Linked DNA regions of Homo sapiens: region 2 is linked to region 1. Evidence: fine-mapped expression QTL. A gene starts in region 1. The other region holds a variant in brackets. All regions are shown on one strand. Distances are between the middles of the regions.

Region 1 (9,159 bases):
GGCGCAGTGGCCGCCACCTCGGCGCGATGGCATCTTCGCTGCCTGCCTGGCCGCCCTTGGCCGGGCGCGATGACGTTAACGCTCTTCCTTGGCGTTCTCACACTGTGGACCCAGGGATGGCTCCAGCTCCTTAGAGTTTTGCCCAGAGAGGAAAGGAGACTGTCCTGTGACTGGAGAGACAGAGGCAGATCTCCTGCCCAACCGGCCTCAGCCCCACCATCGTCTAAAAAGTGTGCCCCACTTCCCCTCACCCCCTGGCCCTTAGGGTCCAGACATCCGTTTGTTAGATGCTGGTGGCCACCCAGAGTGTGCCCAGAGATTGACTCGAAGGCCACCCGAGGTGTCTGGCTCAATTTCTGGGTCGGATCAGGGTCAGGGAATCTGAGTCCCCGGGAGGCTGGGGACAGAGCTGAAGCCCAGGTTCAGATGGCGGCCATGGAAGGCGGAGAGCCGTCAGCGAGGCAGCGCCGGGGCTGCGGGAGCTTGCGGGAGGGAAGCGCCCGTGAGCCGCAGAGACGCTCTGCAGGGGAAGCCGCGTGGTGTGCGACCCTGGGCGTTGAGCTCCAGGCTTCCTGGCAAAGAGGACTGTGGATTCCTGGCCCTGTGACCTTGGGCAAGTTACTTACTGAACACCCTCTGGACCTACCAGTAAAAGAACAATAACAACAATCGCCCTAAAAATACTAGAAGATGAAATAGACAATCCTGGCACACAGTAAATGCCCAGTAACTGTTAGCCCTTATTTAATTTGAGTAACAGTAGCTGCCATTTATCCGGAACTTACTATGGGCCAGGTAGTGGATTCTAGAGCTGTCTGAGTTCAAAGCCCATGTTTTGTTGTTACCGTATCTTCTAACCATTTGAAGACTGGGATAGGGAAGGGCTTAGAGATGAAAGGAAGATTGTTAGTAAAGGCCTAGGCCTATAAGACCACAGACATTTTAGTAGTTGCTTTAAAACTATCTCAAGTAAAGAAGAGTGTTAGAAAATAATATTAGATGTAGACTGAGACCAGATAATAGCAGACCTTGAATGCCAGAGTAAGGAACAGCTTTCAAGGAATAGGGCCATCTTTTATTTTGGGAAGAAGAAGACTTGAACAATAAAAATAAAACTTGTTATTTATCATGGTTCCAGAGAGGAGTTACCCAAAACATGAATAGAAGCTTCAGGGAAGCAGATTTTGACTTGATATCTACATACGGATGTGCATACATTTACAACACACACCCACCCACCCCAAAAATAGATTTTTCATTAAAAAAAAAAAAAAAAAACCACCTTAAGCCGATTACTTCTGTAGGGACTGCAGACATGAGCAATATAGAATATTTGCTAGCAGTTTATAAACTTAATCTGTTTTATACTTGTCTTTTTCTGCTTATTTATTTCCACCTGGAAAGTTGGTCAGGATGGATCACAGGGAAGGAGAAAACTAAAGTAGTAAAAGTAGTTTGATTACATAACTACTGAACATCACATTATGTATGAGACATCTTATGTATAATATTTAACAAAAAACCCTTCTTATCCCCCAGTCATACCATTTGGGAAACAACCCACCTTAAATTTGTCTCCTACAAAATTTCTGGCAGGGATCTACTGGACAGCCATGACTGTGAAGTAAAACTCTGCTCTCCTTTTGTTTTGTTTTGTTTTGTTTTTGAGACGGAGTTTCGCTCTTGTTCCCCAGGTTGGAGTGCAATGGCACAATCTCAGCTCACTGCAACCTCCGCCTTCTAGGTTCAAGTGATTCTCCTGCCTCAGCCTCCTGAGTAACTAGGATTACAGGCACCCGCCACCACGCCCAGGTAATTTTGTATTTTTAGTAGAGACGGGGTTTCACCATGTTGGCCAGGATGGTCTCGAACTCCTGACCTTAGGTGATCCGCCCACCTCGGCCTCCCAAAGTGCTGGGATTACAAGCATGAGACCACACCTGGCATCCTTTTGTTTTAAACTACATTATTTTATTAATACATCAGGCAACTCTATCCCACAAAACATTTGTAATGCTGGAAGTTATGCTTACTCTTTTAAGTACTTCAGAATATTATATATTCAACTTAATAATGAGATAGTGACAATTCGAAAGGGTTTCACTTCGTATACTATCAGTTCGCTGAGAACTAATAAAAAAGTGTGGTTTTTTGGGTCATCCCAAAAATCAAGTACACTTTGGGAAACAGGGAGTTAAAAATCTTTCGGAAGTTAACTTGGTATAAGAGTATGAAAAGCCTCTGTTGCTCTACTTCTGAGGAAATGCTCTCCTTTTTCCTAATAAAGCTTTCCACAGAAGACAAACTCTGTACACAAAAAACAAGGTAAGTATGGGAAATAATTGCTGCAATTCATTAACTCTCAAAAAAGTTATTCATTTTGACATGTAAGAGAAACTTTATTTATGAATGTGAAATGTGCTTCAAAGTGCTGATCTGTTAAAATTCCATAAAACAAGCTTCAAAATGCAAGTCATTTGTGCCAGCTACGAGTAAATAACTGAAGCAGCATTTCCAGAGAGACTAGGGCAAAGGACAGAACAAACTACAAATCAGCAGAAAAGAAACCAAGCATAGTAGAGTGTTAATAATTCACCATGGTTACTGCTCTTAAAACCAAAGCAACTAAACAACTGTCATCTGTTTACTTTTACGTGTGTTTTCATCATCTCTACACCGTCTGAAGTGTTCAGTGTACATGGATGTGGACAGACAGTCAAAGCCTACAGGAGCTTTTTTTTTCTATTAGAACAGTCATTTTAATGCATAGATTTGATGTGGTTATTTTGCTTTCTCTATCTCTGCATTATAAGCTCTTAAAGGAAGAACATTCAGTGGGTTTATTAAATATTAGGAAGCATTCATATTTTATTTTTCCACCATGTATTTGGTTTGTATGCATGTTTGTTTCCTGAGCACACTGTAATGGCTGTTTATGTGAATTCTGAAAGAGCAAAACTAGAACTGTGAAGAAGACCAAAAATAACAGAGAGGCACCCTATTGTCCTGTGAAAAACACTAGACTTGGGATGAGAAACATGGGTCTCAGGCCTAGGTTCTCCTACATCCCTGCAGAACCTTAACTGAGTTACTTAACCTCTCTTTCGTTTACCCCTGCAGTGGGGATGTCAACACCTAACCCACCCTATCGTATAAAATTAATGTATGAATAAACTGAGTGAAAGGACATTATAAATTAAACTCTGCAATTGTAATAAATTACTCTTATTGTACCCTCTATCAAACAACCTGGCGTTACTAGTACATGGTATTCCCAGTACTTGAACATATGTGACTTTCTGGGTGACTGAGCATGAAATCAAATCAGATTTGGCTCAGAGTCATTTCTCCAAAGGGATGTAATCATCTTAGTATTCTGGAAAATTTCCCCTAATAAGACCCCTTTTTGAGTAACACAGTCCAGTGGAGAGTCCCCGCTGACAGTGAATAAGGCTGTGTCTATGTAAGTTCACATGATGTGGTTAGCACATGCAGTGTGTCCCAAGACATTTTCAGGCATCACAAAAACTTGAAAAGTACTAACAGTTGTCTTTCCTTTGGTATTTAGGCAAAAAATGAGGAAGATTCATAAGTAAGTTAACACAGAATTACCAAAAACCTCATGAGAAAGAAATGAAGGGATGTTTCAGGGTAGCTTTTCGAGTCCCAAGTGATCATTGATTTGGCCCTTCTGTTTCTGATTGTGAAAAAGCATTCTGAAAGAATGGGCGCCGGTTCAAGAGGAGGTCTCTGAGGGTCAGCCTTTGGCTGTTTATAGAGGTGAGATTCAAATGCCCTCAGATCATGAAAAGTGCTTGAACTCATTTCAGAGAAGAAATGTTTTGAAATGCCCGTGGAAATACTGAGTGGGCCACTTTTTTATTTTGTGAAATTAGAAACGTATAAACTATTTTTATTATTACAGATAATTGTGAAAGCCTCACTGGATGACATCCTAGCTGAGGAAAAGAATGGAATTTTTGTATTAGTATGAAATGCTAATTTATTACTGTATTTAGATCTACTGACCATCTGAGGGAGTTAGAAGTTAAAGTAAACAGCTGTATCTCTAGTTGATCTTTGCATATTTTAATCCAAATATGGCAAAGGGCAGGGCTAAAGAAGGGAGTGTCCATAAACGGGGCTCAGAACTTGTAACAGAAAATTAAAATATACTCCACTCAAGGGAATTCTGTACTTTGCCCTTTGGGTAAAGTCTCATTTACATTTCTAAACCTTTCTTAAGAAAATCGAATTTCCTTTGATCTCTCTTCTGAATTGCAGAAATCAGATAAAAACTACTTGGTGAAATGACTTCTTGTCACATTGCTGAAGAACATATACAAAAGGTTGCTATCTTTGGAGGAACCCATGGGAATGAGCTAACCGGAGTATTTCTGGTTAAGCATTGGCTAGAGAATGGCGCTGAGATTCAGAGAACAGGGCTGGAGGTAAAACCATTTATTACTAACCCCAGAGCAGTGAAGAAGTGTACCAGATATATTGACTGTGACCTGAATCGCATTTTTGACCTTGAAAATCTTGGGTAAGACTATGCTTTGTATTGTATATGTATGTATGTTGTGTGAAAAGTGGTAGGTGTGTGAAAGAGAACACATATATGTATATGCAGATGATAATTCATGTCCGTACATGCAGTCGTATGTTGAATAAGATCACTTTCACTTTTAATTATACTGCATTGTGAATTGCACAATTATCTAAACTGGGCATTCACATGCTCTTTTATAAACCTTCTTAAGCACCAGATTATTAAGTTTTCTTTTCAAATGTATACAGACTGAGACAATAAATAGAAAAGGGTTTTGTTTTAAAATCATACCTTTAAAGAAACAGATTTAATACTCCTTTGCATTGAGTTAGTGTTTGGCCACTATGCTTGCATATAAAATTGTTAGCTTTTTAGGAAATTCACTACGTTTTCAAGCAACTATGCTTACGGTAATGCATAAAGTTCTAGTTCAAAAAATGTAATGTTTCAAGTAATATTTGTTGAATGAAAGCGTGATTAAATATCTTTTGTCAGAAGACATCAGACACTTTGGGAGGCCGAGGCAGGCGGATCACGAGGTCAGGAGATCGAGACCATCCTGGCTAATGCAGTGAAACCCCATCTCTACTAAAAATACAAAAAATTAGCCGGGCGTAGTGGCGGGTGCCTGTAGTCCCAGCTACTTGGGAGGCTGAGGCAGGAGAATGGCGTGAACCCGGGAGGCGGAGCTTGCAGTGAGCCAAGATTGTGCCACTGCACTCCAGCCTGGGAGACAGAGCAAGACTCCGTCTCAAAAAAATAAATAAATAAATAAAAATAAAGACATCAGACCTCCCTGTGATCCGAAGTAGCAGACGTACTTAACTTCCATGGTGGATTGTTGTAGATGGGATACCAGAGATGAGAACTAAAGACACCATCTGAATTTTCAGAGCTTATATTTTGCTGATTTGTAATATATTGCATACAACGTAAGCAGTCATAACATGCTAGGTTAGGTCCTTATTAATTATTTTTGCCTTCGTTTACATCATAATAGCTACCACTGTGGATATAATATGACTCCACATATTTGCTTTTTACCACTTCTTTCTTTCTTTCTCTTTTTGAGATGGAGTTTCGCTCTTGTTGCCCAGTCTGGAGTGCAATGGTGCAATCTCAGCTCACTGCAGCCTCCACCTCCGGGTTAAAGTGATTCTCCTGCCTCAACCTCCCGAGTAGCTGGGATTACAGGCACTTGCCACCATGTCCGGGTAATTTTTTGTATTTTTAGTAGAGACGGGGTTTCTCCATGTTGGCCAGGCTGGTCTCAAACTCCTGGCCTCAGGTGATCTGCCTGCCTCAGCCTCCCAAAGTGCTGGGATTATAGGCATGAGCCACCGCGCTGGGCCGCTTTTTTTCTTTTACTAAAAAATATTCTGAAACATCTGTTTTTCTCAGGAAACTGTGCCAGGTACTGGGGGAGTACACAGCTCTATACAACTTGGTTTCTACCCCTCAAGGAGTTGGTAGACTACTAGCTAAGATATAAGATACATGGCCGGGCACAGTGGCTCACACCTGTAATCCCAACACTTTGGGAGGCTGAGGCAGGCAGATCATGAGGTCAGGAGATCAAGACCATCCTGGCTAACACGGTAAAACCCCGTCTCTACTAAAAAAAATACAAAAAATTAGCCGGGCATGGTGGCGGGCACCTGTAGTCCCAGCTATTCGGGAGACTGAGGCAGGAGAATGGCGTGAACCTGGGAGGCGGAGCTTGCAGTGAGCAGAGATGGTGCCACTGCACTCCAGCCTGGGTGACAGAGCGAGACTCCGTCTCAAAAAAAAAAATATATATATATATAAGATATGCACAGGCACAACTAGCCACTGTTCTATGTGCTTGTTTTCTGATCAACTCTAATTTGAGTTAGATCACTCCTTAGGTTTAGTCTCAACACAGATCAAAACATGGACACTACTCTTAATAGAAACATGCCTCACTTTATGGAATAGATGTTTTTCAGGGCAATTATACTGCAGTCATCCTGTTTGTATCAAATCATATTTTTACTAGCATAAATTTTAATTTGAGAAATGCTTTATCTTCATGACTGAGGTTATGTCAACACAATTCATGCTTATCTATTGACCTAAGAGAGCTGTTAACTAACTTCTATATTACAAGTAAGAATTTGTTGAAGGATAACTTTTAGTCGGCATATTAACTTCCCAAATAGGTGTGAAATGGACTGGGGTGAGTTTATGAGCACCCAGTAGTATGCATTTCAGTGAGCACAGTCTTTTCACTTAAATTCACTTTCTGCTCCTTACTGTTAACACTGTTCAGAGACTAGACTGTTCCCAGCGTGGTTGAAAAATTATAAAATAGATAAACTAATTAACTTCTCCCATCCTGCCTCTCCCAAATTTATTCATTTTCCTATATTCCTCATCTCAGTGGTGGCATCATTATCCACCAAGTCCCCTGTGAAAATCACCCTAGAACCTTCCCAGTCCTTTGTCTCCCACGTCTAGTGGGTCACTAAGTCCTCCCAATTATTCCTTGCAAGTACTTCACAAATCCAGCCTTCCTCTCCAGTTTTACTACCTTAGTTGATTTCCTCTGTGGACAGTTAGAATAGCCTCCTAAAGGGTCTCTCTGCATCCAGACTTGCTCTGACCCTTCCTGTCATCTATTTTCCATCTGATACCTCTAGGAATCATCCTAATATGCAAATCTTATCATGTCTCTCCCCTGCTGAAAATTCTTTAAAAATGTATCCAGAATAGATTTAATCAACTTAGTATGGCTAATGCCCTTCAGAATCTCACTCTTCCCTATTCTTCATCCCTTGGGACTCTTCCAATGGGAGCTCAACTGCAGGCATGAGAACTCAAAAGTGTCCATCTTTTTGAAAACTTCCAGACTTGACTCTGAGCAACTGGGTAGATACTAGCACCATTTACTCAAATGCGGAAGAATGATATAGAACCAAAATTGTCGGGCGCGACCTCAGGGGGTTATTTCATGAATTAACTTTTAAAATGTATAAATATCCATTAGGCTTGGTTTGCATACAATAGGAACCTAAGAATAGTGGTTTAAACAAATAAGGGTTTCTTGTTCACAAATAATAAGTCCAGAAGTAGGCTGTCCAGGGCTGATGGAGCGGCCACATGATATCATCAATGCCACAGGCTCCTTCTACCTTCCCACAGCACTGTCTCAACATGGCCCCTTCCACCTTCCCACTGCACCATCTCAACGTGGCCCTTTCCACCTTCCCCCTGCACCGACTCGACGTGGTCCCTTCTACCTTCCCAGTGCACTATCTCAAGATGCCGGCTTTGTCCTCATGGTTTTTGCTTCAAAGTCACAAAATAACTACTCCACCTTCCTGATCTCATTCCAGGCAGGAATTAGCCCATTGTACACAGTAGGTCCCTTGAAGATACTAGCAAAAATAACCAAGGAATACAAATAGATGGAATTTTAGGAAAATGTGGTTGAACGGTTTAATGAGGAAAAGTAAATGAAAAACATTATTATATCTAGAAAAAAAATGTATCTTAACCATTGTGGGAAGTGGGGAGAGGGTAGAGGCCCATTTGAGAATGGAAGAAAAACTACTGGCCCTTGTGCCAGAAAAAAAATACATATATCTGTACCTGCAAACTTGTGGCCTTTTTGGAGAGGTTAGACTCTGAAAACTCTGTCCCTGGACCTCTAGTGGTTCCTGGACCTCAATTAAGAATCTCTAATTAGGCCAGGTGTGGCTGCTCATACTTGTAATTCCAGCACTTTGGGAGGCCAAGGCAGGAGGATTGCCTGAGGCCAAGACTTCTGTAACCACCCAGCAAGTTCTCCTCATCCGCTGCCCAGACAGAGCTGATTTATCAAGACAAGGGAACTGCAATAAAGAGTTTAATTCACACAGAGCCGGCTGTACAGAAGGCCAGAGTTTTATTATTACTCAAATCAGTCTCCCCGAAAATTCAGACACTGGAATTTTTAAGGATAATTTGGTGGGTAGGGGGCCAGTGAGTCGGGAGTGCTGATTGATCAGATTGAAGGTAAAATCATAGGGAGTTGGAGCTGTCCTCTTGCGCTGAATCAGTTCCTACGTGGGGACCACGAGACCAGATAAGCCAGTTTATCCATCTGGGTGGTGCCAGCTGATCTGTCAACTCAGGGTTTACAAAATATCTCAAGCCCTGATCTTAGGTTTTACAATAGTGATGTTATCCCCAGGAGCAATTTCAGGAGGTTCAGAATCTTGCGGCCCTCCAGCTGCATGACTCCTAAACCATAATTTCTCATCTTGTGGCTAATTTGTTAGTCCTGCAAAGGCAGTCTAGTCCCCAGGTAGGAAGGGGGCTTGTTTTGGGAAAGGGCTGTTATCATCTTTGTTTCAAAGTTAAGCTGTAAGTTCCTCCCAAAGTTAGTTCAGTTTACACCCAGGCATGAACAAGGATAGCTTGGAGATTAGAAGCAAGATGGAGTCAGGTTAGATCTCTTTCATTGTAATAATTGTCTCAGTTATAATTTTTGCAAAGGCAGTTTTAGTTCAAGACCAGCCTGGGCAACAGAGCAAGACTGTATCTCCACAAAAGATAAGAAGATTAGCTGGGCATGGTGGCACGCACCTGTAGTTTCAGCA
Region 2 (16,090 bases), 30 kb after region 1:
GACAGCCATGGTGCTTGAGGGCTCAAAGGTCCAAATCCCTGGTGCGGGACCCTTCAGATAACTCAGTTGTTACCCTAATGTAGGAGCACATTTGGAATACACCCACCTTGTCCCAGACTCTCCCCAGCCCAGCACCACCTTCTCTCACCAATCCCCGTCAGAATAGAATCTCCTTGTATGCAGGTACAACATGGCTCATTTTTATATTTCCCAACGGTAGAATGTCTTGCACACAGAAGACTCCTAATGGATATTTCCTAAATTTTGCTGAACAGAATTTAACTTGAGCTGGCAACAGGCAGACTATGCACTTAGGTAGACATGCATTTAGTTTTGCCTTTTAATATTATAAATCTCTTTGGCTACATTCAAGGTAAACCTGGTATTGAAGCAAACTCTTTTTTATTTTTTTTTAGAGACAGGGTTTCATTCTGTCACCCAGGCTGGAGTGCAGTGGTGTGAACATAGCTCACTGTAGCCTCAACCTCTGGGGGCTTGAGCAATCCTCCCACCTCAGCCTCCTGAGTATCTGGGACTACAGGCATGCACCACCACACCCAGCTAATTTTTCGTATTTTTTCTAGAGATAGGATCTCTGTGTTGCCCAGGCTGGTTTTGAACTCCTAGGCTCAAGCGATCCACCCACATTGGCCTCCCCAAGTGCTGGGATTACAGGCAAGGAGCCACTGCACCTGGCTGAAGCAAATGTTAATTACACGTTTCAATTATACAAATGCAAAGGGGAACTCTTAAAACTACTGCCAAAATTCACGACCCAATGTCAGCGCAGTCAGATCACTTGCCTGCATCTCAATGCCTCGCTCAAGTATCTCTTTTAAAACAACAGAATACTGTAATTTGTTAGTTGTCTAGAGTCTGACATAAATTTTTAGAGGAGAAAAACCAAATATAATATATTTATTTTGATTGTTTCCTGAGAGGATCAAGACTGGAAACCACTGCATCCTGGGGATCCCATGTTTTTAACTCTTGATGGGAAGACGATCCCACTGGGCGGAGACTGTACCGTGTACCCCGTGTTTGTGAATGAGGCCGCATATTACGAAAAGAAAGAAGCTTTTGCAAAGACAACTAAACTAACGCTCAATGCAAAAAGTATTCGCTGCTGTTTACATTAGAAATCACTTCCAGCTTACATCTTACACGGTGTCTTACAAATTCTGCTAGTCTGTAAGCTCCTTAAGAGTAGGGTTGTGCCTTATTCAACTGCATACATAGCTCCTAGCACAGTGCCTTATTCGGTAGGCATCTAAGCACATTTCTTAAATTAATTAATATATCTTTAAAGATATCATATTTTATGTATGTAGCTTATTCAAAGAAGTGTTTCCTATTTCTATATAGTTTATTATACATGATACTTGGGTAGCTCAACATTCTTAATAAACAGCCTTTGTATTCAGAATATAAAATTGAAATAGATATATATAAAGTTATTTGTTTTATTGTGCTTTGCCTTACTACACTTCACGGATACTGTACTTGTACTTTTTTTCCAAATTGAAGGTTTTTGGCAACCCTGTGTCTAGAAAGTCTAACAGTGCCATGTTTCCAACAGCATGTGCTCACTCCTTGTCTCTGTGTCACCCTTTGATAATATTTCAAGCTTTTTTATGATTTATTTATTATATCTGCTATGGTGATCTGTGATCAGTGGCCTTTGATGTTACTGTTGTTAAGTGTTTTGGGGCACCATGAATCGTGCCCATGTGAGACTGCGAACTTAGTGAATGTTGTGTGAGTTCTAACTGCTCTACTGACCGGCCATTTCCTTGTCTCTCTCCCTGTCCTCTGGCCTCCCTGTTCCTTGAGACACAATAATTAATAAGTCTACAGCAGACTCTGTGTGTTCAAGTGAAAGAAAGGGTCATACTTCTAGAAATTAAGCTTAGTAAGGAAGGCATGTCAAAAGCTGAGACAGGCTGAAAGCTAGGCCTCTTGCACTGGTTAGCCAAGTTGTGAATTCAAAGAAAAGGATCTTGAAGAAAATTAAAAATTCTACTCCAGTGCACACACACAAATGATAAGAAAGCAAAACAACCTTATTGCTGATATGGAGACAGTTTTAGTGGTCTGGATAGAAGATCAAACCAGCCACACATTAAGCCAAAGCATGACCCACAGCAAGGCCCTAACTCTCTTCAATTCTGTGAAGGCTGAGAGAGGTGAGGAAGCTGCAGGAAGCTGGGAGAGGTTGGTTCACAAGGTTTAAGGAAAGAAGACAGCTCTAAAACCTACAAGTGGAAAGCGAACCAGCAAGTTGCTGATGTGGAAGCTGTAGCAAGTTATCCAGAAGATGTAGCTAAAATCATTGACAAAGATGGCTACACTAAACAACGGATCTTCAGTGTAGTTGAAACAGCCTTCTATTGGAAGAAGATGCTATCTAGGACTTTCCTAGCTAGAGGGGAGAAATGAATGCCTAGCTTCAAAGCTTCAAAGGACAGCCTGACTCTCTTAAGAGCTAACACAGCTGGTGACTTTGGGTTAAAGCCAAAGCTCATTAACTGTTTCAAAAATCCTAAAACTCTTGTTTTTTGTTTTTTTTTTGAGACGGAGTCTTGCTCTGTCGTCCAGGCTGGAGTGCAGTGGCGCAATCTCGGCTCACTGCAAGCTCCGCCTCCCAGGTTCATGCCATTCTCCTGCCTCAGCCTCCCCAGTAGCTGAGATTACAGGTGCCTGCCACCACGCCCGGCTAATTTTTTGCATTTTTTTAGTAGAGATGGGGTTTCACTCTGCTAGCCAGGATGGTCTCGATCTCCTGACCTCATGATCCGCCTGCCTCGGCCTCCCAAAGTGCTGGGATTACAGGCATGAGCCACCACGCCCGGCCCAAAAATCGTAGGACTCTGAAGACTGATGCTAAACCTGCTGTGTCTGAGCTCTATAAATGGAACAACAAAGCCTCGCTGGCAGCACATCTGTTTGCGGCATGGTTTACTGTATATTTTAAGCCCACTGTTGAGACCTACTGCTTGGGAAAAAAAAAAATTCCTTTCAAAATACTACTGCTGATTGACAATACACCATGTTACCCAAGAGCTCTGCTGGAGATGTGCGAAGAGATTAGCATTGTTTTCGCGCCTGCTACCACGACATCCAGCCGAAGCCCATGGATCAAGGCGTCATTGTGACTTTCAAATCTAACTATTTAAGAAATACATTTCAGGCTGGGGGAGGGGAGAAAAAAGAAAAAAAAGAAAGGAAGAAAAAAATCATTTCATAAGGCTATAGCTGCCATAGATAGTGATTCCTCTGATGGAGCTGGGCAAAGTAAACAGAAAACCTCTGGAAAGGATTCAGCATTCCAGATGCCATTAAGAACATTCAGGATCCGTGGGAGGAGATCAAAATATCAACATTAACAGGAGTTTGGAAAAAGTGAATTCCAACCCTCTTGGATGACTCTGAGGAATTCGAGACTTGAGTAAAGGAAGTCATGCAGATGTACAGCAAGAGAATGAGAAGTGGAGCCTGAAGATGTAACTGAACTGCTGCAATCTCATGATCACACTTGAATGGATGAGGAGTCGCTTCTTATAAATGAGCAAAAAAGTGGTTTCTTGGCTGCAATCAACTCTTGTTGCAGATGCTGTGAACACTGTTGAAATGACAAAGGATTTAGAATATTACGTAAACATAGTTGATAAAGCAGCAGCAGGGTTTAAGAGGATTGACTCCTATTTTGAAATGAGTTCGGCTGGGAGAAGTGGCTCATGCCTGTCGTCCTAGCACTTTGGGAGGCCAAGGCAGACAGAGCACCTGAGGTAAGGAGTTCGAGACCAGCCTGGCCAACATGGTGAAACCCCCTCTCTACTAAAAATACCAACATATTAGCCAGGCGTGGTGGCACGTGCCTGTAGTCCCAGCTACTTGGGAGGCTGAGGCAGAAGGATCACTTGAACCCAGGAGGCAGAGGTTGCAGTAAGCCAAGACTGCGCCACTGCACTCCAGCCTGGTGGACACAGCAAGCCTCCATCTCAAAAAAAAAAAAAAAAAAAAAATGAGTTCTACTGTGAATAAAATGTTATTAAACAGCATTTCATGCTACAGAGAAATCTTTCACGAAAGGAAGAGTCAATCAATGCAGCGAACTTGTTGTTTTATTTTAAGAAATTGTCACGGCCATCCCAACCCTCAGTGCCCAACCACCCTGATCAGGCAGCCATCATCAAGGCAAGGCCCTCCACCAGCAAAAAGATCATGAATTGCTGAAAGCTCAAATGATGGTTAGCTTTTTTAGCAATAAAGCATTTTTAATGAAGGAATGTACATGTTTTAGATATAATGCTATTACACATTTAACATACTACATATAGTGTGAGCATAACTTTTACACGTACTGGAAAATCAAAAAATATGTGTGGCTCATCTGTTATAATGTTTGTTTTATTGTGGTGATCTGGAGCCAAGGCTGAAATATCTCTGAGGTATGCCTGTAATGTATAAGTGCTAGTAGAAATGAGTTGTGCAGAATTGCTATTTTTTTCAATTTTTATATTTGGGTTAATGGTAATATACTAAGCGTCCAGTCTATAAACTTCAGCATTCGTTGCGAAATCCAGAGGAGACTTTTAAGTGCTGTTTTGTAGATGAAATATGAAAGAGAAACAAGGGCTTAATGGTAAAGATGACATATGACTATATTAAGAAACTGAATGGCCCTTTGTCCACAAACAGTAACCCACACAGCATTGCTACTGTGGCATGCCCACTGCTCTGCACTGACCTCATGGAGCAGAGAACCTCCTTCAGACACCTCACGCACCCCCTGAGGAGCTAATGTTTCTTCCCAACATGGAAAATTTGGAAGAGGCCTATTCTTCACAGCTGTCACTTCTCATTTTGAAAGAATATGCCCACCCTTATTCGCAGGCAAGGTGTGAGGAGGTCTTTGGGCTCCAGCTGTTGCCAGCAGAGGTGGTGAAAGTCAACAACAGGGCACTGGACACACATAGAAATGTGACCCACAGCTATGGTTTGCAAATACAGTCTTTCAAGAAGTCCTGCCATGTCCTAAATGCCCAAACCCCTTGCCTCCCATGATTCTTCTCCTCAAAGGACCTTCTGCTGGACGCCGCCCCCTCCCTCTCCAGCCCCACCAGGGCCCTCCCCGCCATCCTCTTAGGCCACAGCAGCCAATAAAGAGTGTTTTTATTCCATGATCTGTACCCCCAATGAATCCATAATCATAGTTTCAAATGTATTTACCAAAAATACTAACATTATCTGGAATGAATGAATGAATGAATGAATGAATAAATATTATATATTTATACATTTTCATTCTTCCAAAGTGAACCCCACTATGCCAGTTTTACTCCATACTCAGTGTTCTGGAAAGCCCATATTCTTTCTAAATTTTTCAGCATTTTTTTCTATTTTTGTACTTTACCAAAATTATTTACATTGGAATAAACTCTCTTCCTTCTGAATTCTGTAGTAAAAATGTGATTTATCAGCTTTTGTACATAAGATTTACCAAGCTTCCTTCTCCTGCTGTGAATGTTCCGTTGTGTCCTATTTCTGAGTCCAATTTTTCTAGGTCAGCTTTTTCCAGATGAAAATTTTGGCAAGAATATTCTTCCCTCAAATTTTAGTTATTTGTAAAATTTACAGTGTACAATTTATATCACTGTGGTTTCAGTGGGTTTCAGGGTTGATTATTCCTATCAAGTCTAATCTTCCCTTTTACAGTCTTTAAAGTTTCTAATTAGATGTGTGGTTGGTTTGTTTGTTTTTAATCTATAACATATTGCTGTGTGGTTTTAGCCACTTTGAGTTTTATTTTACTTTGATTATTTCTAACAATCTACATTTGCATTTTTCTCATTTATAAAATGGGAATGATAATAATAATAGTGCCCCTTTCATGGGGTTACTGTGAGGATTAAGTGGGCTAAGACATATAAGCACTTAGCTCAGTGCTTAGCACAGAATACATACTTAACAAATCACTGAAGTTCAAATTCCTAGCACAAAAGGCCCTTCCTGATCTGCCCTCCCTCCCCGACGCCTCCCTACACTCATCTCCCTTTGGGCCATCTCCACTCCAGTGTCCTTCCCACTGTTTATTCCTCTAGGCCTTTACATAGACTGACTCCCCTACCCAGAACTCTCCCCCACTGTCCTCCACCTCCCACCCCACCTCAGACTGCGCTCTAGCCAATAATGCCTTTTTCTCCTTCAAAATGCAACCCAACTTTCATTTCATAGCCAACATGGTCTTCGTCGACCTGACTTTGTTGCCACTTTGCCCCTCCTTCTATCCCATCTTGAGGGCATCAGCAGTGTCTTTTTCGATGTCTACAATCTAGAAAGTGACCAATAGAGGTGAGTTGAATAAATGAGCATGCTCAAACATCCCTTCTCTACTGGAACATCTTCATCTTCCACCAATGGCCCTGCCTTTCTTTTTATCTTCCTTCCCAGTCACCTCCTGAGAACTGTCCCCATCACTCCCAAGTGAAACACTTCGTTTTACACCCTCCAGACTGTTACTATGTCCCAAAGGACAGTGGAAGGAAAAAACAACCATTTAAGTCTGCAAATCCATGGGAAAAAAAAAAGGAAATTTTCTTTTCTTTTTTTTTTTTTTTTTTTTGAGATGGAGTTTCACTCTTGCTGCCCAAGCTGGAGAGCAATGGCATGATCTCGGCTCACCGCAACCTCTGCCTCCTGGGTTCAAGCGATTCTGCCGCCTCAGCCTGTTGAGTAGCTGGGATTATAGGCATGCGCCACCACGCCTGGCTAATTTTGTATTTTTTTAGTAGAGACGGGGTTTCTCCATGTTGGTCAGGCTGGTCTCGAACCCCCGAACTCAGATGATCCACCCACCTCGGCCTCCAAGAGTGCTGGGATTACAGGCAGGAGCCGCCGCACCAGGCTAAAACAAGGAAATGTTCACACTCAACAATTCCCCTGTTTACAATCCTTTGGTGGCTTCTTACCCTTGTTATGAGATCTCAAAGCCTCACCACGGCTGTCCAAGTCCTACATGCACTGGCCTCTGCCCACCCCTCTAGCCTTATTTCATGTCACTTGGCCCCTTGCTCCCAGCAATTTGGCCACATAAGACTTCTCCAGTCCTCAGATGCACAAAGTTCCCTACCACCTTTGCCCACATTTTCCCACTTACTGAAACGCTTCCCCATCTCCACACTTCCATTAGCTAAATGACGCTACTCTTAAACATGACTCAGGCTAGGTTAGGCCACTCTGTTATACAAGCTCATTGCCAGTACTAGACTGGCACTTACCCAAATTGCAACCGTAATGCTTTATGACACCGGGGCAGGTGAAGTTATTGTCTGTCTCTGATTAAACTGCAAAAGCTCCAAGAAAGCAGGGATAGCATTTGTCTTATTCTTTGTCGTACACACAGCACTTCACGCATAGAAGGAGCTCAGTGCGTTTTGCTGGATAAATGAGAGTTGCTCTGCTGAGTGTGAAGCTATCTGGAAGGGCTTCTTTGGAAGAGCGGGTTGTCACTTCCCTCACAAGGGTGACCCCAAGATAGCCACTGGAGACCACAGAGAGTGGGAATGGTGAACCACATACAGGCAGTGCTCCAATAGGAGGAGCAAATGAAAAGTGGCAGCTGGGGAAACCCTGAAGCCTGAGAGTCCCATGGGGGTGACCAGGGAGAGAGGCCTATACGGGTCATGGATGTTCCAGGGCAGCAGGACCAGGGAGCGTCTGAAGGCCCATATTTGCATATCCGACAAAAACAGAGTCTGGAGGGAAATAGCTGCTTAGGGGTTTTTTGTTTGTTTGTTGTTTTTTGTTTTTTTTTTTTTGTTTTTGAGACGGAGTCTCACTCTGTCACCCAGGCTGCAGTACAGTGGCATGATCTCCGCTCACTGTAGCCTCTGCCTCCCGGGTTCCAGCGATTCTCGTGCCTCAGCCTCCTGGGTAGTTGAGATTACAGGCATGCGCCAGCAAGCCTGGCTAATTTTTATATTTTTAGTAGAGATGGGGTTTCATCATATTGGTCAGGCTGGTCTCGAACTCCTGACCTCAGGTGATCCGCCCACCTTGGCCTCCCAAAGTGCTGGGATTACAGGCGTGAGCCACCATGCCCGGCTGCTTTTCTAATATCTCTATACTTCCCACACATACTGCCTTCAAGAGGCTTGTGATCTACCTGTAGAGACCTTTGTATGCCTGTTCCCAAAGCAGACACACCAAAAACCCTAGTCTAGTACTTGGCAGACAGTAGTTCCTGAACACCTACCAAGCCGATGACTGAGAGGGTCACTCAGAGAGGACTTCGCCCAGGGCTGCCCCATCAGGCTTGGTGGGTTGCACAATATGAAACTCCAGGGAGGTACCTGCACACACCACAAAGTCAATGGCACAGCCCAGAAGCTTACATCCCATCAAAGCAAAAACAGCACTAAAGTTTCCCCCATTCTGCCAAGAAAAGAACAGGAACTTGACTAGCAAACAAAGTCAACCAAAAAACTGAGGTCTATAGGGGATTAATGTAGTATAATTAAGGGGAAAAAAATACTAAAGCCCCATTAGCTACAGATAGACTAAATGTTTAACAGAAAAACGTCATTTTTAGAAACTACATATTAAGGGAAAGAATAACTTTCACAGTCTTGAAACATAAGAAAGCTCAAGAGCATAGAGAGCATAGAGAGAGGTCCCTAGACAGGAGTTTTCTTGCTCTAAGTGAAAGGCAGGGCCACGCACAGGGACCTGTAATCCCAGCACGTCGGGAGGCCGAGGCAGGTGGATCACCTGAGGTCAGGAGTTTGAGACCAGCCTGGCCAACATGGTGAAACCCCGTCTCTACTAAAAATACAAAAAATTACCTGGGCTTGGTGGCGGGTGCCTGTAGTCCCAGCTACTTGTGAGGCTGAGGCAGGAGAATTGCTTGAAGCCGGGAGGTGGAGGTTGCAGTGAGCCGAGATCATGCCATTGCACTTCAGCCTGGGTGACAAGGCAAGACTCTGTCGGAAAGACAGAAAAAGAGAGAGAGAGAAAGAGAGAGAGAAGGAAAAGAGAAGGAAGGGAGGGAGGAAGGGAGGGAGGGGAGGAGGGAGTGGGGAGGCGAAGGCAACCAAAGCTTAGGAATGTGGGTGCAAATAAATTCACAGGTTTGGTGGTCACAAGTTGAAGGTGTTTCCAACTTATGGCTTCCATTTTCACTGTAAAATAAGGGATAAAACCTACTACAGCTATTGATATGGAAATGGTGGGGTCACAGGTTTAAGAAGTATGATGGTTTTGAAATAACAAAATATGATGGTTTTAAAAAATAAAACAGAAAACCGATGAAAGAAATAGAACAGCTGGACAGTAACAAGGGTTGCTATAAACATTAAATGAGACATGTATGTAAAGTGCATGGCACTTTATAAATATTCATGTCCTTCTCCCCTCCTACCACCATCTTAAATGGAAGAAACTGTCTTACTTATATTTGTATCATCTATCATTGCCCATACTTCATGTTCAATTTTTGTTGAATTGGTTCTAAATCTTCACACATAGTAAGTGAGATACATTTTTTGAGTTGGACTGAATCCTTTCTGCAGAACTTTGCTGTTACTGTCAGAGGGGTTGCTGGTGCAGTGAGAAAAATGGTAGTTCTTGATACTAGACTAACTAAACTTCAGAGAACCTGGATCCTCCAGCCAGGAGAAAGGATTGTGAACTTCGCATGTCATTCCGTCTGTCTCCAAGTCTCGATTTCCCTACCTATTAAACTGGGATACGACACTCACCAAACCTACAAAACAATAACCAACATGACCGGAAGAGCTTTGTAAACAGTGTAGCATACAATCTCAAAGGCTGAACGCATTGAAGGAATCCTTTGGGGAGGTAATTTCTCAGAGTATCAAGAACCATAAAAATGTTGAAACCAATTGACCTAGGCATCTCCTTCCCAGAAATATATCCTATGACAAGGGTTTCCACCCTTTTTCTACCCGTCCACCCAAAACATCCCCATGGATGGCACATTCCTAGGTTTTGGACTAACGCCTATTAAGCTAGGATGTGAATCACGTACAATCCCTGTCTTGCTGCCACTCAACAAGATACATCCCAGTGAAGGAAGTTATTCTGGGAATCATCTGAATTAAGTAAATAATTCACCAAATGCAGTATTTCACTTATTAACAAATTGGTTGCAAGTTCCACAACCCATCAAGACAAGCAGTCAAGACTTGGCATTCCATCAGAGAAATGCAAATCAAAACCACAATGAGATACCATCTCACACCAGTTAGAATGGCAATCATTAAAAAGTCAGGAAACAACAGGTGCTGGAGAGGATGTGGAGAAATAGGAACACTTTTACACTGTTGGTGGGACTGTAAACTAGTTCAACCATTGTGGAAGTCAGTGTGGCGATTCCTCAGGGATCTAGAACTAGAAATACCATTTGACCCAGCCATCCCATGACTGGGTATATACCCAACGGACTATAAATCATGCTGCTATAAAGACACATGCACACGTATGTTTATTG[C/T]GGCACTATTCACAACAGCAAAGACTTGGAACCAACCCAGATGTCCAACAATGATAGACTGGATAAAGAAAATGTGGCACATATACACCATGGAATACTATGCAGCCATAAAAAATGATGAGTTCATGTCCTTTGTAGGGACATGGATGAAATTGGAAATCATCATTCTCAGTAAACTATCGCAAGGACAAAAAACCAAACACCGCATGTTCTCACTCATAGATGGGAATTGAACAATGAGAACACATGGACACAGGAAGGGGAACATCACACTCTGGGGACTGTTGTGGGGTGGGGGGAGGGGGGAGGGATAGCATTAGGAGAAATACCTAATGCTAAATGACGAGTTAATGGGTGCAGCGCACCAGCATGGCACATGTATACATATGTAACTAACCTGCACATCGTACACATGTACCCTAAAGCTTAAAGTATAAAAAAAAAAAAAAAAAAAAAAAAGACTTGGCATTCAAGTTAAGAACTGCCATCCTTATGAAATCACTCAAAGGAATGAAGAACTGAATATACCTATGAATTAGGCTGATCGGCAATAATGATAGTAAGAACATCAGCTCTTTCCTATCTATTCTCTCATTGCCTCCTTGTGAAAAGCCTGCGTGGTGGACAGGAGGGATTTATACCTTCTGTTCTCCAGGTGGAACCATGGGTTTCTATTCACTCAAAATAATTTGACAGCCAACAGCCATGATGGATAGAGCCCTCATTTTTTTTATTTCTTCCAAAAAAAAAAGGGGGGGATACAGGTGCAGAACATGCAGGTTTGTTACATAGGTATACGTGTGCCATGGTGCTTTGCTGCACCTATTGATCCATCCTCTAAGTTCCCTCCCCTCACCCCCTACCCCCCAACAGGCCCTGGTGTGTGTTGTTCCCGTCTCTGTGTCCATATGTTCTCAATGTTCAATTCCACTTATGAGTGAGAACATGTGGTGTTTGGTTTTCTGTTCCTGTGTTAGTTTGCTGAGGATGATGGCTTCCAGCTTCATCCATGTTCCTACAAAAGACATGATCTCATTCCTTTTTATGGCTGTATAGTATTCCGTGGTGTAGATATAACACATTTTCTTTATCCAGTCTATCATTGATGGGCATTTGGGTTGGTTCCATGTCTTTGCTATTGTAAATAGTGCTGCAATAAACATATATGTGCATGTGTCTTTATAGTAGAATGATTTACATTCCTTTGGGTGTATACTCAGTAATGGGATTGCTGGGTCAAATGGTATTTCTGGTTGTGGATCTTTGAGGAATCGCCATACTGTCTTCCTCAATTGTTGAACTAATTTGCATTCCCACCAACAGTGTAAAAGTGTTCCTATTTCTCCACAGCCTCTCCAGCATCTATTGTTTCCTGACTTTTTAATAATCGCCATTCTGACTGGCGTGAGATGGTATCTCACTGTGGTTTTGATTTGCATTTCTCTAATGACCAGTGATGATGAGCTTTTTTTCATATGTTTGTTGGCCACGTAAATGTCTTCTTTTGAGAAGTGTCTGTTCATATCCTTTGCCCACTTTTTGATGGGGTTGTTTTTTTCTTGTAAATATGTTTAAGTTACTTGTAAATTCTGGATATTAGACCTTTGTCAGATGGGTAGATGGCAAAAATTTTTTCCTATTCTGTAGGTTGCCTGTTCACTCTGATGGTAGTTTGTTTTGCTGTGCAGAAGTGGATAGAGCACTCTTTGAGGGCTTTCATGGCCTGAACCACTGACATTATGTGGCTGTGAATCCCTGGGCACATCACTTCAAGCCCGTGAGTCTCCTTTTATTGAAACTGCTTCCAAAGCTGCTGAGTGGTTCGAATTGACTACCTGATGTGAATGCGCTTTGAGATGCAAATACGTACAAAGGTGACATGCCTTATGGCTTGCTGGCTCTGTTCCTAAGCCGGAACCAATGATAATGCTTCAGGTCCAAAAACGGGCCTTCCCTTTACCCACTCCTGTTAACAACACTCTAGGGTTTCTAGTCAATCTGCACATTGGCACACCTAACGCAAGGATAAAACGTGGCCATAACGAGGCAAAACAAATATTTATTAGAAATCAAAAAACCATTTCTTCAATGGCACAAACATGTTCTTACTCTTTGTATGATTTCTTTCTTGAACATAGAGTTTCGCACACACATACACACTAAGAACAAGTAGGTAAATGAGAATTTACAAGGATCCGGCACATTCAAGGGAGAATGGGGTGACGATTCTGTGTTTGGAACCAAGATCACAGTAAAAAATATGTAAATCAATGCAGAAATCAAGTACGGCTTACAGGCCCGGATGACGGCCCATCTACCTGGGCCCTGCCCAGAGCGAAAGGTCACAGGTCACCAGGCCTTGAGGAAGGACAGGAATGTCAATAATAAAGGGCTCTCTCAGGCTGGAGCCTTCTAAGAGCCTGAAGACTTCACAGTACAACCTCCAGCACCTTCTCCCACATCCCAGGGAGGAAGGTTAAGCACCTTTTATTCCTAACAGATATATCACATAATGTCTAGAATAATGAATTCTTCCTGAGGAAAAGTTTAGCTAAAGGAGCATTTGCAGCCAAAGGCACTATCTGAACCTGGGAGACCCCATCCCTGGAAAACACCTTCCCCTGAAATTACTGAAATGTCAATCACGGAGTTTTAGGATGTCCTGATAGACCCACGGGTTCAACGGGGTGTGTGTGGGGGCTGAGGGTGTGTGTGTGCATGGGTGTGGTTTTGTGCACCCCTGTGGGCACACTTGAATTTTCAACTAGTCATAGGGAACATAGGGGACAATGTTGACTGCCAAATGAGACACCTGAGAAAATAGTCCTGCCCCCCAATATAAGCGAAATACAAAGACTCAAAATGATGGAATAACTGTGCTTTTTAAAAATAAATAAATAATGGCTCAGGGAGACATCTGTGGTCCAAGAATCAGGACACTCCAGCCTCCACAGCTCTGATATGACCTTCCTGCATGACTTTGCCCAAGTACACATTCCTCTCGGAGCATTAGCCTCTGGGCGTAAAATGAAGGAAGTGCTCCTTTTCACTCTGATGCTTCTTGACTTATGGCTTCCCTTGGTAAACCTACCTAGGCTCAGACGTTTTGGCTGAAAGCCTTTTGGGGTGGACACTGTTGGGAAGAATATCCAATACAGAAAATGGTCTTGCCAACAAATTCCATCCAGACCCACAGACAGCAGATCACCAAAACATGTGAGATGACAAACATCCCTATGGCTCTCCATTCCCCACTTGGACAAAAGCTGGCAGGTTAGGCAAATAGAAATCAATAATTGGCTTTATCCATTAACATCCGAGTCAAAGCAACTCTGGATACGGCTTTATCCATAACAGATACGGCTTTATCCATTAATGGATATGACTTTCTCCATTAATATCTGAGTCAAAGCAATTCTGGAATTCCCAGCTCCATAGTGTGGAGCTTGGCATCATGAATCCAAACCACTTCCTTTCAGACCAAGATGTCTGTTCAGGCTTAATGCGGGTAGCTAACTCCAGATGTGGAATGCTGATTTGTACAATCTCCAGGCTAAAAGGGACCTTAAACTTCTTCCAATGACCATTTTCAACAACATTCCTCATTAAGTGCGCAACCAGCTTCTGCTTAAACATCTCCAACATCTGGAGCAGTTGCTGGATTCTGTTGAGCCAAAATCTTTCTCAATTTCCTAATTCTGCCCATTCTGAAACACATCTGCTCCTCCTGCCTCTAGGACAGTTCTCCTCAAATCTTCTCTTCTCCAGAGGCCCATGCCCAGCCCCGACCACTGTGGCTTAGAGCACGCGATTACTCCCTGGGTCAGCTGGGAGGGCAGGGGCTGCTGTGGATTGTGAAGCCTCACACACCCCAGCCCACCTCTCCCCAATCGGCCCCATCAGGGGCACAAAGTCTCTATCTGTCCAGCTAGTCTGGCACACAGAGTGGCCCAGGGCAGAGAAACTGGCCCAGAGTGCACTGCTAGGCCCCGACTCTTCAGTTTGCCTCAAGCCAGATGAACTTATCTATCGCCATGTTATCTGAAGGCCAAATTTCTATTTCTGCCATTTAAGATTAACATTTATGGTTACTATTTTTATAATTCCACCTCGAACATTTTTACATGAATCCTTTCACCAGATAACGGCGGCAGAGTGGATTTTCTGGTGGTTTCGGCCCCAGTCACCTGGAAAATCCTTCCGTCTCCACTTCACCTCTGCCCCCCAGACTGACTCCGTGTCATTTCAGAAAGAGAACATCAGAGGACGAGGACCTAAAAATAAGCTCAAAGTCTTGGCAAATGCTTTTCTCTCACAAGCTTCCCCTTCAGCTTCAAAATTCACAGTTAAAATTAAAAAAAAAATACTTCGTACCAAAGCAGTTGAGGCATTTTGTTAAATTCCCCCACTGAGACATACTGAGGTATGCGACTAACTGCTGAGTTCCAAGATGATATCGATCGAGCAGCTGCTATTTCTGCTTCAGCGAAAGCCACGATCCCAGCACACAGGCACGCGCTACTGTGAGGTCAGGACGAGGAAAAGAGCCAGGACCTTTCACCCAGATCGCGGCGGCCCAGCAGGACTTGCCCGGAGTGTCTCATGCAGACTTTTGTGTGTGTGAAGAAAAGCTTTTTGTCTTGCTCTGGGCACCCTGAGGCCAAATATATAATACTTACATCCAGCCCCAAAGCCCCCAGTCTGTCTCCACTTTTAAAATCACAAACTTCATTGTAGTAATTTTCATTCTCAACTGAAATGTCTTTTCCGTATTGCAAGTTAAAACCCTGTGTTAATTCTGCTACTAAAAACATCTCTCAGCTTGAGACAGTTTGAACCTTGGGGTGTCAGGGGACGTTCACTCCAAGGATGGTCTCCTTTTCCCCGAAGGGTTCCGGAAGGGTGTTTCCAGAGCGCATTCCCCTCCTCCCCCAGGATATCCAGCTTACCTCCGTCCCCCGCACACTCTGGGATGGGATCACGGGTCTCCCACAAATTCAGGCAACCCAGTCACAGCAGAAGAGATGGTACAATGTGTGGGCTGGGGTTGGGGCTGACGGGGGAAGCTGGCAGGAGGAAAGACTCCTCTCCCTGCTCCTCAAGACTGCTGCCCCTTTCCCGCCATCCATCTCTCCCAGCCAAGCCGACCTGCAATTGGTAAAACCAGAGGCTTCACCCGGGACTTCAGGAGGCTCCCAGGCTCCAGACTGCTGCTGGCTGTAGGTTTACACCAGCTGTTTGCCAAGTAACAAAATCCAGGATGTTTCCCACTCAGACAAATTGACAACTGCCCCTCAGTTCAGACACCCACTGAGCACTGAGCACGAGGGTGCACTCTGCTTCTAGGCCAGCAGAGCCGGACTCCACCATCCCTCAAAGCCTCTCTGCACAGAGTCGGTGACTCCGCCTGCAGCGCCAGACAGCGCACGCGCACACCAGCTCTGGGTTCCGCTTCTACACCGAGGTTTCCGGGAATTCCTCGACTTCTTCAAATGCATTGAGAGTGGTTTTGCTGTTGTTCCTGGAAGAATCTTGGATTTTGTTGAAATCTGCTTTTTAAAAAAATATATATTTTAG

Alleles and levels. Alleles are on the strand shown, and positions count from the first base shown. SD is a standard deviation of normalised expression in the study named.
In carriers of allele C in region 2, the expression in putamen of the gene that starts at base 4,148 in region 1 tends to be higher than with T alone (small effect, 0.26 SD a copy in GTEx).

What was found. PIP is the estimated chance that this variant, and not a neighbour inherited with it, causes the effect. A credible set is the group of variants that fine-mapping cannot tell apart.
Region 2: its variant is the best candidate, but not a certain one, in a credible set for the expression of ASPA in putamen (GTEx, PIP 0.82).

The regions. Positions count from the first base shown.
Region 1 is chr17:3,471,850-3,481,008 of GRCh38, forward strand. It overlaps ASPA (aspartoacylase), which reads left to right and starts at 4,148. Exons shown (of 6, transcript NM_000049.4): 1 at 4,148-4,546. The coding sequence starts at 4,311. It also overlaps a transcript of SPATA22 not described here.
Region 2 is chr17:3,497,950-3,514,039 of GRCh38, forward strand. It overlaps TRPV3 (transient receptor potential cation channel subfamily V member 3), which reads right to left. Exons shown (of 18, transcript NM_145068.4): 18 at 12,553-16,062. The coding sequence ends at 15,968. It overlaps ASPA (aspartoacylase), which reads left to right. Exons shown (of 6, transcript NM_000049.4): 6 at 942-5,456. The coding sequence ends at 1,139. It also overlaps a transcript of SPATA22 not described here. Among named protein-coding and RNA genes, the nearest start is that of ASPA, 30 kb to the left of the region's middle. RefSeq lists an enhancer at 12,050-12,588. The variant C/T (reference allele first, on the strand shown) is at 10,514.